Linked DNA regions of Homo sapiens. The protein of the gene in region 2 purifies or fractionates together with the protein of the main gene of each other region. This does not show direct contact. Each region holds a gene or a part of one and is shown on either strand. Other genes may lie near its edges.

The links. Proteins that work in one complex are often made in the same cells at the same time.
Region 1: the proteins of WDR62 (region 2) and CEP170 purify together in Homo sapiens (affinity purification with mass spectrometry; 3 studies listed by BioGRID and IntAct, with this or other methods). This does not show direct contact.

The regions. Positions count from the first base shown.
Region 1 is NC_000001.11:243,126,262-243,133,284, reverse strand, and holds part of CEP170 (centrosomal protein of 170 kDa), read left to right. Parts: intron 1-3,831; coding exon 3,832-3,925; intron 3,926-4,984; coding exon 4,985-5,036; intron 5,037-6,546; coding exon 6,547-6,836; 3' UTR 6,837-7,023.
Region 2 is NC_000019.10:36,085,880-36,092,902, forward strand, and holds part of WDR62 (WD repeat-containing protein 62), read left to right. Parts: intron 1-807; coding exon 808-933; intron 934-3,158; coding exon 3,159-3,226; intron 3,227-3,305; coding exon 3,306-3,427; intron 3,428-4,565; coding exon 4,566-4,641; intron 4,642-5,320; coding exon 5,321-5,432; intron 5,433-5,522; coding exon 5,523-5,586; intron 5,587-6,809; coding exon 6,810-6,932; intron 6,933-7,023. UniProt on the Homo sapiens protein: Required for cerebral cortical development. Plays a role in neuronal proliferation and migration.

The sequences.
Region 1 (7,023 bases), on a different chromosome or scaffold from region 2:
TAGAAGGCAGGTAAACAGTTAATTATAGTTCAGTGTGTTAAGGGAAATATAGGATGGTTACTATGGAAGCCCATAGCAAGGGCACTTGGGAAATTCAGAGAAGGGCTCTTAGAGAAATTGCCATGCAATTTAAGTCCTGAATGATGAGGAGAGGAGTTACTCAAAAGCTATGTGAAGTGAAAGGGCCAGAGTATGGTGAGAGATGACACTAGAGAGATGAGGATGGATCTGTTTTGGCAGAATTTGTTAAGGAGTTTGGATTTTATTATTAAAAACCATAGGAAGCTAATATATCCAATATGGGTCCTCTTGATACACCAGTGCTATCTGTAAAAATATCATGAGAGTCTTGTATGGTCATGTGGCTTGCACCTGGAAAACCCTGGAGTCTCCTTACCTGTAAACAAGTACACAGTGTTTTTTCATCCTACCTACTGAAATACAGGTCCGTCCCTGCTAACTGGAGTCTTAACCACTCATTCATTTATTCAGCAGATGTTCACAGATTACCTGCTGTGTACCATTCTCTTCCTTACCACGGAGCAGCTTTCCTACGTTCTGTAGTCTCCCCCAAAGAAAAATATTTTTTGTAGCTTTGACATTGAACTAAAATTGAGAACAAAGAAGACATTGCTGATGGATTGATAACCTGTGTTGTCTCAGAAAGTGACAGAATTTATAAAGTTTAAAAAAGGATGCATAAAAATGCCTCAATAAAGTTATACATAAATACAGAATGTTTAATGTATTTGAATTGCCTTCAGTTCGAGTGTTGAGTTTTACTATGCATAAAGCACTATGGCAGGCTTTATGGAAGGTAATGAGGATAAAACCATTTCTATTATTAAAGAGTTTCCAGTGTAGTTGGCAAGGTGAGGCACATATGCAATCAACTGTCGTACAAGATAGCGTATAATAGATTAGTGCTCAGTTAGAGATATAAAGGCAAAGGAAGGATCACTTTCACCTAGGAGGTTTAGGGAAGGCTTTGGGAAGAAGATACTATTCAAAGGTAGGTCTGAGTTGTGATAACCAAACCTAAGGGGTAGAGACCTGGGCCTTCTGCGTGGAAAGTGCCAGGGTAGTTTGAGAATCAACTGGTCTTTAAGCTTTGTGTCAGGAGTTATAACCTCAAATGTCTACTGGGGTTCATCCTAGAGGCATGCGTACTTACATTGTATGAACACTGTCTGTGGAATCCATTTTTAAATATTTATACAGGAACTCCTGTTGTACAGCATTCTCATTGCATTCCATGTGAAAATGACCCCCTTAGGTTGTGTAGCATGGCCTTGCATTGGTAGACTCTCAATTCGCAACTCCGCGTTCGCATGTTTTAAGGGCTAGTACTAGGGAATTGGTTATGGCTCATAGAATAGGAGCCTGAGACTTCTGTTTGTTTCCCTAAAACCAATGGCTTTATCAAAAGTATTTTAACTTAATTCTTAAATTATTGAATGAAATAAGCTTTGGAATTTTATGTATTTTCATGCTGAAGTTTAGCTTATTTTGAATCTATAATATAATCTGAATATCACTTTGAAAGCTATGATTTTTTCAGCTTAAAATTGATAAGGACCTTCAAACAAAAACAAGTTCTGGTCATTATAGCCTGGTCTAAACTAATTTCTTGGTCTGGTTTTCTGATTCTCTAGTATTTAAATATTAAATATTATAGTAAATATTATAGTAAAGTTTATTTCATAATGCCAAAATGACAAGTTTGACTTCTTAGATCTGTTCTATTATATATTACAAATTGTTTTTTGTTTTTTTGTTTTTTTGTTTTTTGTTTTTTGTTTTTGAGATGGGCTGGAGTGCAGTGGCATGTTCACAACTCACTCACTCAGTGCAGCCTCGACCTCCCTGGGCACAAGCAATCCTCCCACCTCAGCCTTCTTAGTAGCTAGGACTACAGGCATCTGCACCACACCTGCTAATTTTTTTGTATTTTTTATAGAGACGAGGTCTCGCCATGTTGCCCAGGCTGGTCTCGATCTCCTGGCATCAAGTGATCCACCCACCTTGGCTTCCTAAAGTGCTAGGATTACAGGCATGAGCTATTGTGCCTGGCCAACAAACTGTATTTTAAAATAAACCATTTATTTCTTCAGGGGGGCATTTTTTTTTCAGGGGCAACCCGTGAAAAACCCATTTTCACCAAAGGTGAAATGTCTATGGTTTAACAGTTTTAGATCCACAAACACTATACTCAGTAGCCATCCTCTGGAAAAATTCACTGAATTTTTAGCACTGTGTGGCTAAACAGAGTCTTTCTCTATTGTATAAGTCCATTACAGTTCTAAGCTGGTCCATGAAATAGTCATTATTTCCTTATTTTCCATCAGTCCTAATGCTGCAAGGACTCTTTTACAAGAACATAATAATTTAGAAAAGATGGCTGGCAAGGGTGTTCATTTTTTTGAGTTTAGAAAATTTAATAAGTAGGCCATAAGAATATTCTTATACCAGATTCTAGACCCGTTGCCACCTTAAGCAAATGTTCCAGACTTGATGTGATGTTAATGAGTTTCATGTTTTTAAATAAGGTAAGTCTGGCATGTTGATCTTTGAAGAAATACCAGCACAAATATTAACTTAGTTTACTACTTAAATGCTGATCAGCTTGCAGTAGTAATACATTTACATGAGGTTATATAGTGTTGTTTAAACTAGATTTCCAGGCTTACTGAAAAAAATTTAAAAGAAACCAAAAAAGTAGCTAGTATTTACATCTAAGACTGCTGAATCATGTCTGATAGACTCTAAAGTGTTAGAAAAGTGTCCCACATTTGAAAGACACGTCAAAATTTTGTGGTCCTTTATTTTATAAGTTATTTGATGTTAGGGTAATGATAGGATAATTATCTTTATTGGCAATTGTTTTTATCAAAAGGGTAGCATCCTAATTCCTAATAGGTTATTATGTGCAAGTATACTAACACGAATTAACAATTGTTAAAGAAAAGCACAGTAAGTACTCCCAATTTTTTGTCTTCAAAATAATATACACACTTTTCTTGATCGATAAGGTGCTTATTCCCATATAAAGAGGTCTTAACAGACACAATTGTTTATACCTAATTCAACCTATTTTCATCTCACTTATTCCTATACTGCATATATTCTGTCTGAATAAAATTGCATTTTCTTTATAAGTGACAGTTACACAGTCTTTTCTCCTTATACCCAGGTGATACATGTTGTTCCAAGATACCCACTGGATGCCTGACACCACAGATAATTCTAAAACCTAATATACTGTGTATTTTCCTACACATACATGCCTATGATAAAGTTTAATTTATAAATTAGGCACAGTAAGAGATTAACAATAGTAACTAATAATAAAATAGAACATTTGTAACAATATACTGTAAAAAAAAGTTATGTGAATGTGGTCTTTTTTTTTCTCTCTCTCTCTCTCCCTCTCCCAAAATACTGTAATAGTTACGGACCATGCTTGACTGCCACTAACTAAAACCATGGAAAGAGAAACTGTGGATAAGAGGGCATTACTGTATTGTAAATTATAAATATTAAAGTTTTGAGGTCATAACATCATTTACATTTGTTTTATATTTTGTTTTCAATAAAGAATAAGATAAACAGTAAAGAATTTATGCATGTATTAATAAGCATTCAATTGGAGCTCATACACATGAATTAATTGGTACTGTTGGCTTAGTATTTTAATTCTCAGTTTATGCGGTGGTTGGTTTTTTTTCTTTGTGTACCTTTGAAAAGATACATTGCTTTGGTATTATTAACAAAAAAGTAATAGGTTTTTAAAATATAAAAAGTTATATGCTTATGTTTTTTGATTTATAGAATATTATTTAAAGACAAAGATCGGAATTGGGATGACATAGAAAGCAAATTAAGAGCCGAAAGTGAAGTCCCTATTGTGAAAACCTCAAGCATGGTATAGTAATTTTTCTTGAAGATTAAAACATTTTAATAGAGTTTTATTTTAAGGAAAAGACCCTTATTTTTGAGCTGTTCGTTGATTTGCTTTTTCAAAAGAAGATATAAATGCAAAATTTTGGGAAATTTTATTTCTTCTACTGACTCACAGGTTTAAAATGTTGATTGTTTCAAAGTTGCAGAGGGTATGAAGGAGGAGCCTTTTGTGTTTCTTACTAGTATAGATTGTTCTTGTAATAATTAAACATTAGAAACATGAAATTTTTAAAGAGAACCAAATCTAACATGAAAATATTAAGTTGACATAAGTCGTTTCCGTTTACTTAATATAATGCTTATCTTCTTTTTAAAAGAATTTGTACAGATTTTCATTGCTCAGAATATAATTATAATATTGAGGTTGCAGTTTATATGTTTTTACAAAGATAATTTGAAGGCATTTTTACATAGTTATTGCAAGGTTGATTAATAAGAATTTTAAAAATCTTTGCGGCCGGGTACTGTGGCTCACGCCTATAATCCCAGCACTTTGTGAGGCCAAGGAGGGCGGATCACTTGAGGTCAGGAGTTGAAGACCAGCCTGGCCAATATGGCGAAACTCTGTCTTTACTAAAAATACAAAAATTAGCCAGGCATTGTGGCGGGCGCCTATCATCCCAACTCCTTTGGGGGCTGAGGCAAGAGAATTACTTGAACCTGGGAGGAGGAGGTTACAGTGAGCCAAGATTGCGCCATTGCACTCCAGTCTGGGCGACAGAGTGAGACTCGGTCTCAAAAAAAAAAAATCTTTGCTTAAATAGTAGTAAATGTTAAACTTTTCATCTGCTACAATCATCTCACTGAAAAAGTTATTGTATTTCATTTTAGTTTAAATATTTTAATTTGAATCTTGTTTGCTAGATATCATAATTATTTCATATCATGTTGCTATTAATGTAGTAAGTACCATGTAGATAATATTAAGTGTTCCAAATAAAGTGAGAGTGAAATTCATTGCTTGTAAAGTGATAACATTTAGCTAAAAGTAGGCTAATTTTTGTTATTGCTTTCCCTGCAGGAGATTTCTTCTATCTTACAGGAACTGAAAAGAGTAGAAAAGCAGCTGCAAGGTAAATTTACTACTGAATTAAGTATAAAGAGCTAATAATTTAGAATAAGTGCCTTCTGAGTGGTATTTCTTAAAATATTGTTAGGATGTTATTTGATTAAATGTAATGACATACATAAAATACAGAGTTCAAACATTCACATTATTCATAAAAAGGAATTTTTTTAAACCCAGTATAAAAATTTAAAATGTAATAAAGATATATGTTGGGCATATTTTAGTTCATAGGTTTGACAGTAGGCTAGATGTCATAAACTAATTGAAATTTTTTATGTATTACATATAAATAATATGTGAAAAATATATAATAAAGTTGTGTTAATTAGCATTATTTGTGTGATTTGACAGTTCTTAAATTATGTTGGTGGTGTAACCTGAAACAAACTTACATTCTAATAGAAATAATAGTTGTTTGGTTGACAAGAAATGAGTACATATTGGCCATAGAGACCAGAAGAGAAAGGAGAGAAGAAAGTGAAAGAGGCTGCCCTCTAAACTTGTCAGAGCTGGGCTGTGCATTAATGCCTATGTATGTCTTGACCCAGAAGTCCCCAGTGGTACAACAGGCAGGTTCCATAGTCAACTGCTAATTCTACTGAGTCTTTATCTATCGAATAATCATAGGTACTTATGTGGATCCTATCAAAATGATTTTTCATCTTTATTTAGCCCCAACACACCTAAGGGTTATGGTACACCCCATGAGTAAAAGTGGCTTGCTAACACAGTGCTTGTTAGCTGGTAGACTGGGGGTATACTTTTAAAAGTCCCTTCTACATGATTCTTACATCTATGTTACTTCCTTCTCCCAACTCCCTACTCTGCCCAATGCCAAATTGAAAATCACCGCCTGAGAACTTTCCATGTCAACCCAAAGATCTTTTGGACTGAAAGCTGACCTTTAACTGACCCCTTCCATATAGGCAGCAAGTCTGTTTGGCTTTGCAAGCTGCCCTGTGATATTAGTCTGTAGGCTCTGAGGGAACCCCTGTATCTCAGTGGTGTATACAGCTGATAACCCTAGCACTCTGGCCAGGCTAAATGACCGTATTCTATGGTAGCATTCAAAGTATGCTGATGTTCTTCTGGCCTCTCCAGCCTTGAGGTTACTCTGAACCCTGACTTAGCAGCTAATACCTCAGTTATCTGAGTGATGTGGGTTTAGATGTTTATTAAAAATCATATTCAGTATTTTCTCGGTCCTCTCACAATAATGAAGACAAATTTCAACAAGATTTTTCTTGAATTCCACATCTTCAAATACCAGACTTACAAGTCTCTGAAATGCCCGTAAGTGCCACATCAAAGGACCCAGAGAAAGTATTCAGGGCTGGGTGATTTACAGTACAGCTACAGAATAACTAAGAATGGAGTTTTAAATATAATATTGGAAGATTAGCCACATTTAAGATCACATACGCACTGATAGTTTAAATATTATCCAAATCATGAACAGTGTTTATATGTGAATGTAACTGCATCTAAAATTATTTCCTTTTCCCGCCCTTTAGCAATCAATGCTATGATTGATCCTGATGGAACTTTGGAGGCTCTGAACAACATGGGATTTCCCAGTGCTATGTTGCCATCTCCACCGAAACAGAAGTCCAGCCCTGTGAATAACCACCACAGCCCGGGTCAGACACCAACACTTGGCCAACCAGAAGCTAGGGCTCTTCATCCTGCTGCTGTTTCAGCCGCAGCTGAATTTGAGAATGCTGAATCTGAGGCTGATTTCAGTATACATTTCAATAGATTCAACCCCGATGGGGAAGAGGAAGATGTTACAGTACAAGAATGACTTTCTCTTGATTGTTGAAAAATCATTACCTGTGGAATGGCTAGGAATATTGGAAGCAGCATAGTGTTGATGTACGCAAAACAAGACAGCTTGGTCAGCTACAATCTTGGAATCCCTGTCTTCTTAATTTTATTTATTTATTTTTGACGTATAATGTAGTATATCAATCCTTTCAAACTATTTAGAT
Region 2 (7,023 bases):
AGGTATTGCACGATGCTGGTCTCAAACTCCTGACGTCAGGTGATCCACCCGCCTTGGCCTCCCAAAATGCTGGGATTACAAGCGTGAACCACCATGCCCGGCTCCTCAAGATGTTTTCTAGGCTGGGCACGGTGGCTCATGCCTGTAATCCCAGCACTTTGGGAGTTACAGAGTTGGTGGAGTTATATCCTGATGTGATTTTCCCCATGTTCTTCTTTCGTTCTCTCATCCCCCATGCTGTGTGCCCCACCAACTTGTCTTGAAACATATCTTCACTCGGTTCGCCTCTCCTGATCTCCCCTCTGCCTCAGGTCATGTTATTAGGCCTCAGACATAGCAAGTGACCAGAGTAGGGAAGGCTGGTGGCAGATGGGAGTCTGGCCACAGGCAGTCAATAGGACCTGAACAAGGCCCAGGTAGCCAGACCTCAGAGGGTGAGAGGACACTGGTTTTGGAAGAGGCTGAGAGGTTGCCAGGGCTTTACCCAGCACAGACCCAGCAGGCAAGAGCGCTGGGCTCTGCTGGGGCGTCTGCTGTGGATGTCCCTGGAGGAGCGTCCATGCGCCCATCGAGACTCATCCTCCCTGAGCTGGTGGTGAGGAGGTGAAATGCCAGGGTGTGGGGGCTCTGGGAAAGACCACACAGAGCTAAGGGAGTGGCCCTTGCCAGGCTTGGGCCAAGTTGGCTACAGTTGAAGAACCAAAGACCCCTTCTCCGAGGACTGGGCAGCTTGGTCACACTGCCCTTCTGGGAGGCCAGGGCACCCACGCAGCCTTCAGGAACCAGTCTCATTCTCTCCTCTCACAGGGCTGACCTTGCTGGCCTCAGCCAGTCGGGACCGGCTGATCCATGTGCTGAACGTGGAGAAGAACTACAACCTGGAGCAGACGCTGGATGACCACTCCTCCTCCATCACCGCCATCAAGTTCGCTGGTGAGCCCCTTTCTTCCCGCTCCCTGCGCCTTGCTAGCTACCCTGCTAAAAAAGGATTCATTCTTTCAACTCTCCTGTAAAATATATATCCAAACAAGTGAATACAGTATCTGTGTACAGTATACAGAATAATGACTGGGGCCGGGTGTAATGGCTCACACCTGTAATCCCAACACTTTGGGAGGCCAAGGAGGGTGGATCACCTGAGGTCAGGAGTTCGGGACCTTCCTAGACAACATGGTGAAACCCCGTCTCTACTAAAAATACAAAAATTTGCTGGGCGGGGTGTTGTTTCTGTAATCCCAGCTACTCAGGAGGCCGAGGTGGGAGAATTGCTTGAACCTGGGAGGTGGAGGCTGCACTCCAGCCTAGGCAACAGAGTGAGACCCTGTCTCAAAAAAAAAAGAATAATGGCCAGGTACCATGGCTCACACCTGTAATCTCAGCACTTTGGGAGGCCAAGGCAGGTAGATCATGAGGTCAGGAGTTCGAGACCAGTCTGGCCAACATAGTGAAACCCCATCTCTACTAAAAATACAAAAAAATTAGCCAGGCATGGTGGTGTGCACCTGTAATCCCAGCTACTCGGGAGGCTGAGGCAGGAGAATTGTGTGAACCCGGGAGGCGGAGGTTGCAGTGAGCCAAGATTGCGCCAGTGACTCCACTCCAGCTTGGGTGACAATGCGAGACTTTGTCTCAAAAAAAAAAAAAAGAAGAATATAGGCCGGGCGTGGTGGCTCATGCTTGTCATCCCAGCACTTTGGGAGGCTGAGGCAGGCAGATCACCTGAAGCTAGGAGTTTAAGACCAGCCTGGCCAACATAGTGAAACCCCGTCTCTACTAAAAATTCAAAAAAAGTAACCGGGCATGGTGGTGCACACCTGTAATCCCAGCTACTTGGGAGGCTGAGGCAGGAGAATAGCTTGAATCCAGGAGGCCAAGGTTGCAGTGAGCCAAAATTGTTTCACTGCACTCCAGTCTGGGTAACAAGAGCAAAACTCCATCTCAAAAAAAATAAAAATAAAAAATAAGCTGGGCGTGGTGGCCGAAGTGAGTATCCACAGTTCTTAGGAGCAAGGTTTGAACTAGGACGTTGTTGATAGCAGAGACTGTTCTAATTGCTCATGGTCGTAATATTGTTAAATACGGTACTTGGATTCACCACGTGCAGGTTAAGAAGCAGAACATTACCAGAGGCTTGCAGGCCTTCTCTGGGTCCCTCCCAGGTTACCCTTCCTCCCTTATATGGGGCTCACTCCCTTCTGTGAGCCAATGACTCCTCCTTGAGCAACATCTAATACTTGTATGTCAGGCCTGGACCCTCTCAAATGTCCTGTCATGAAGGAGCATGTGTGATGTGCCCAGACTCAGAGTTTTATATTTGTTCTGTCATTTCATCCTCACCAAACTGTTATTCTGTAAAGAAATGAGACGGCCGGGGGCATCTCACGCCATTGCACTCCAGCCTGGGCAACAAGAGCGAAACTCTGTCTCAAAAAAAAAGAAATGAGAATAATAAAAGCAAGAATGTTTCTAATGCTTACCATGTGGCAGTCCCTGTTCCAAGGGCTTCACATCACTCTCCAGAGAAGGAACTGTCACCATGCCCATTGTACGGACCGGAAGTTGAGGCTCAAAGGGGAGGCCCAGGTTCAGAGCAGTGTTTAACAGCTTTGACCTTGGCACCAGAGAATGCCTGGGTTCAGTCCTGCCCCTGTCCTCTCTGTGTGCCTTGGGACAAGGACTCTGTGAACCTCTGTGTTCATGCTTGTCCAGTGGGATGGGTGGTGAGCATTCAGGAAGACCCGCTACATGCATGGGGCCTGGCCCAAGGCTCATGTGGATCTTGCAGTTGATCCTGATGGCACGAGCCTCCCAGCCTGTCTCCACTGGTCGCTGCTGCAGTCCTGCCTCTACTCCGCTACTCAAGTCACCTATCTCAATCCCAGACTGGAGAGGGTGTCCCTTCTTTGTCCCCAGCCTTTGTTTCTCTATATGCCCTTGCTCTGCAGAGCCTGCCTTGGCCACAGCTCCACCTGTGCCCCCTCACACGTACAGCTCATACCTTACAGAGTCCCACCCAGACCCAGCACCCACCTCACCACCTTTAGGAAGCCTTGATCCCAGCACAGTTGATTGATGGCTCTTGCAGTGGAGTTCCCCAGCTAGGGTCCCCTGCCCATGTGGCCCAGCCCTGCCTAACACACAGCGTCCTCCTCCCCTAGGCAACAGAGACATCCAGATGATCAGCTGTGGGGCTGACAAGAGCATCTACTTTCGCAGTGCCCAGCAGGTAGGGTGGCATGGCCTCCTTGGGGGCTGGGGTGGGGGGTTGTCGGGGCATTCTCTGAAGGTCCTGCCGGCCCTGCCAGGGTTCGGATGGACTACACTTTGTCCGTACCCACCACGTAGCAGAGAAAACCACCTTGTATGACATGGACATTGACATCACCCAGAAGTACGTGGCCGTGGCCTGCCAGGACCGCAATGTGAGGTAAGGGGTGGCCCTGGACCCTTAGCTGGCCTGGTCTGCCTTGTCCTAGGCTGTCTGCTTTCCTCCCTCTGTTCCTCTGGTCCCCAAGAAGCTGGGAAGGAATTGAGGGACCCAGCAGGTGTTCCTTCTTGGTTTTTTTTTGTTTTTGTTTTTGAGGCAGAGTCTTGCTCTGTTGCCCATGCTAGAGTGCAGTGGCACCATTTTAGCTCACTGCAACCTCCACCTCCTGGGTTCAAGTGATTCTCCTGCCTCAGCCTCCCAAGTAGCTGGAATTACAGGCGCCTGCCACCATGCCTAGCTAATTTTTTGTATTTTTAGTAGAGACGAGGTTTCGCCATGTTGGCCAGGCTGGTCTCGAACTCCTGACCTCAGGTGATATTGCCCACCTCAGCCTCCCAAAGTGCTGGGATTACAGGCGTGAGCCACCGTGCCCGGCCACCAGCAGGTATTTCTTAGAAGCTGGGCTCTCCCAAGCCTGGCCTCCAGGTCAGCAGAGGGCTTTCTTCTGGCTCTCCCTAGAGCCGGTGTGGGATGACTAAGGTGCTGATGTGGCACATAAACTCCCTCATTCACCCGTATTCCCTGAGCACCTAACTGGGCTGGATGGTGCTGGGATCATGGCAGTGGCCAGGATAGCCCCAGGCCCTCCTTCATGGAGCTCACAGTCCAGTAGAATGGACACGGCCACCTCACAGCCACAGACAGTGACAGAGTGGTCAGAGATGGGGGAGCCCAGGGGCCCTGTGGAGACACCTGACCCCACCTGCGGATCAAGCAGGACTTCCTGGAGGAAGAGACACCTTAGCCTGGGGAGGATGTGGAGGAGCGAGCCAGGGGGAGGCAGAGAGTGAGTGTGCAGAGGGCAAAGCAGTGCAAAGAGGCTCTGCACCCCTTCCCAGTTCTTTCTCATGCGGTGCCAAGCACTGAGCTTGCAGTGTGTGGGGGAGATGAACATTAACTCAGTGGATACCCCAGGACAACCTCAGCTTGAGATGGGGTTTCAGTTTCAGTCTAGGCATCAGATGGGGACAAGAGGTAGCAGGGGGCTTCCAGGGGAGGGGAGGACAGCAAGAGCCAGAGAATGAGGTGGTGGGGTAGGCGGGGCCCTGTTGGCCGCAACATGCCCCTACTTCCCCAGAGTCTACAACACTGTGAACGGGAAGCAGAAGAAGTGCTACAAGGGCTCCCAGGGTGACGAAGGGTCCTTGCTGAAGGTGAGGAGTTGGAGACCCCTGTCTGTCTGCTGCCCTGATGGGCCACCTATTGTGACGGCCCACACCTGAGACCTGTGCCCTTGGTCCTTCCTCAGTGCACCGCGCTGCCCAGCACCTTCTCAGGCCTGGTTAAACAAGGATGCTTGCGAGAGGGTGGGGAGGGTGACCCCAGCTGTGTTTCCTTTATTTACAGAGCCCTTCCCCAAGTGGGGCGTCTAAGTGGGTTCCATTTTGAGTGGCAGCAGGGTATGGTGGGAAGAATCAGAGGCATGAACTCCCCTCCTGGTTTGCCCACACCAGCCACGGGTCACTCAGGACAAGGGGGGACCTTCTCAGAGCCTCTGGTCTAGGACAGTTATGGGTTCAGGTTCTGCCTCAGGCTGACTGTGTGACCTTGGGCAAGCATCATCTCTTGAAATGCACACAGACAGCTTGTCTCATAGACTTGTTCTCTGGAGGAGTTCAGTTTGCACATGTTCAGTGCTTAGCACAGGGCCTGGCTACTGTTGTTACTGCTGCGGTGGTTGTTAATTTCTTCACGTGTCGAATGGGAGCGGGAGCTCCTGCCCTGCCAGAGTCCCATGTGCTGTGCATGCAGCACGGGGGAGGGAGGGGCCCAGGCCTCATCATAAGGAAGAAGCAGGCAGCTGGAGTGACATGTGGGTCCCTTTCCTGGCAGGTCCATGTGGACCCCTCAGGCACCTTCCTGGCCACCAGCTGCTCTGACAAAAGCATCTCAGTGATTGACTTTTACTCGGGCGAGTGCATTGCCAAGATGTTTGGCCATTCAGGTGGGTGTGCCTCTCTGCTTGGGATGCCTCCCCACCCGCCCACACCCTCTGACTCCGAAGGCAAGTGCAGCCTCTCTGCTTTGTTTGCAGAAATTATTACCAGCATGAAGTTCACCTATGACTGTCATCACTTGATCACAGTATCTGGAGACAGGTGGGACATGGACCTTTGGGAGAGTTGTGGCTCAGATACCATGAGCACTGCACTCAGCCTGCCTGTGTAGAGAGCATTTCTAAACTGCCCAGTTTGGATTGTGGGAGTCTTGGTGTCACACCCAGCCCTGAGTTCAAATACCAGCTCTAAGCTGGGCATGATGGCTCACGCCTGTAACCCCAGCACTTTGGGACGCTGAGGCGGGTGGATCACTTGAGCTCAGGAGTTCGAGACCAGCCTGGGCAACATAGCAAAACCCTATCTCTACAAAAAATTAGCCGGGTGTGGTCATGTACACCTCTAGTCCCAGCTACTCAGGAGGGGGAAGATGGCTTGAACCTGGTAGGTAGAGGTTGCAGGGAGCACAGATCATGCCAGTGCATTCCAGCCTTGGTGACAGAGCAAGACCCCGTCTCAAAAAAAAAACAAAACACTAAAAAAACATATCCCAGCTCTGCCATTTATTTTCTTGTCACCTTGAGCAGGTTATTTCCCCTGAGCCTCAGTTTGCTCCCCTGTAAAAGACACCACCGTTTACATTTACCTTAAAAATGGTGTGATGAGGCCGGGCGCAGTGGCTCACGCCTGTGATCCCAGCACTTTGGGAGGCCTAGGTGGATGGATCATCTGAGGTCAGGAGTTCAAGACCAGCCTGGTCAACATGGAGAAACTGTGTCTCTACTAAAAATACAAAAATTAGCTGTGCGTGGTGGCAGGCGCCTGTAGTCCCAGCTACTTGGGAGGCTGAGGCATGAGAATGACCTGAACCTGGGAGGTAGAAGTTGCAGTGAGCTGAGATCGCGTCACTGCACCCTAGCCTGGGTGACAGAGCAAGACTCTCTCAAAAAAAAAAAAAAAAGAAAATTGTATGGTGAGAAATGAATGAGATGATATACATACATTCTTTAGCACATGGGTGGTACTCAAGGAAGTCCCTTTTGTCACTCCCTTTGATTTACCCCAGTTCTTCCCCACAGCCCCCTTCCTCAGGTCTTGAGGCCTCCAGAACAGGCCCTGGTTTGCTGGGATGCCCCAGACCTGGGCCCAGGGTGTGGATGTGGCAAGTCCAGCACCCCTGCACTAAGCGGATAGGGGTGTGTTTTCCAGGAGCATCTGGAGAATGGGGTCCAGGCTGTGGTGTGGGTGGCTTCAGGGTCAGCCACGGCAGCGGCTCCCATGCTTACTCTTCCTCTGCCTTGTGTGTCTCTCTTTGACCTCCGCAGCTGCGTGTTCATCTGGCACCTGGGCCCGGAGATCACCAACTGCATGAAGCAGCACTTGCTGGAGATTGACCACCGGCAGCAGCAGCAGCACACAAATGACAAGAAGCGGAGTGGCCACCCCAGGTCCTGGCAGCCCCTGCCTGTCCACCAGAGGGATGAGTCCCTGCCAGGGCCCCATGGAGTGATGCTGGGGACACAGTGGTGGCCAAGACAG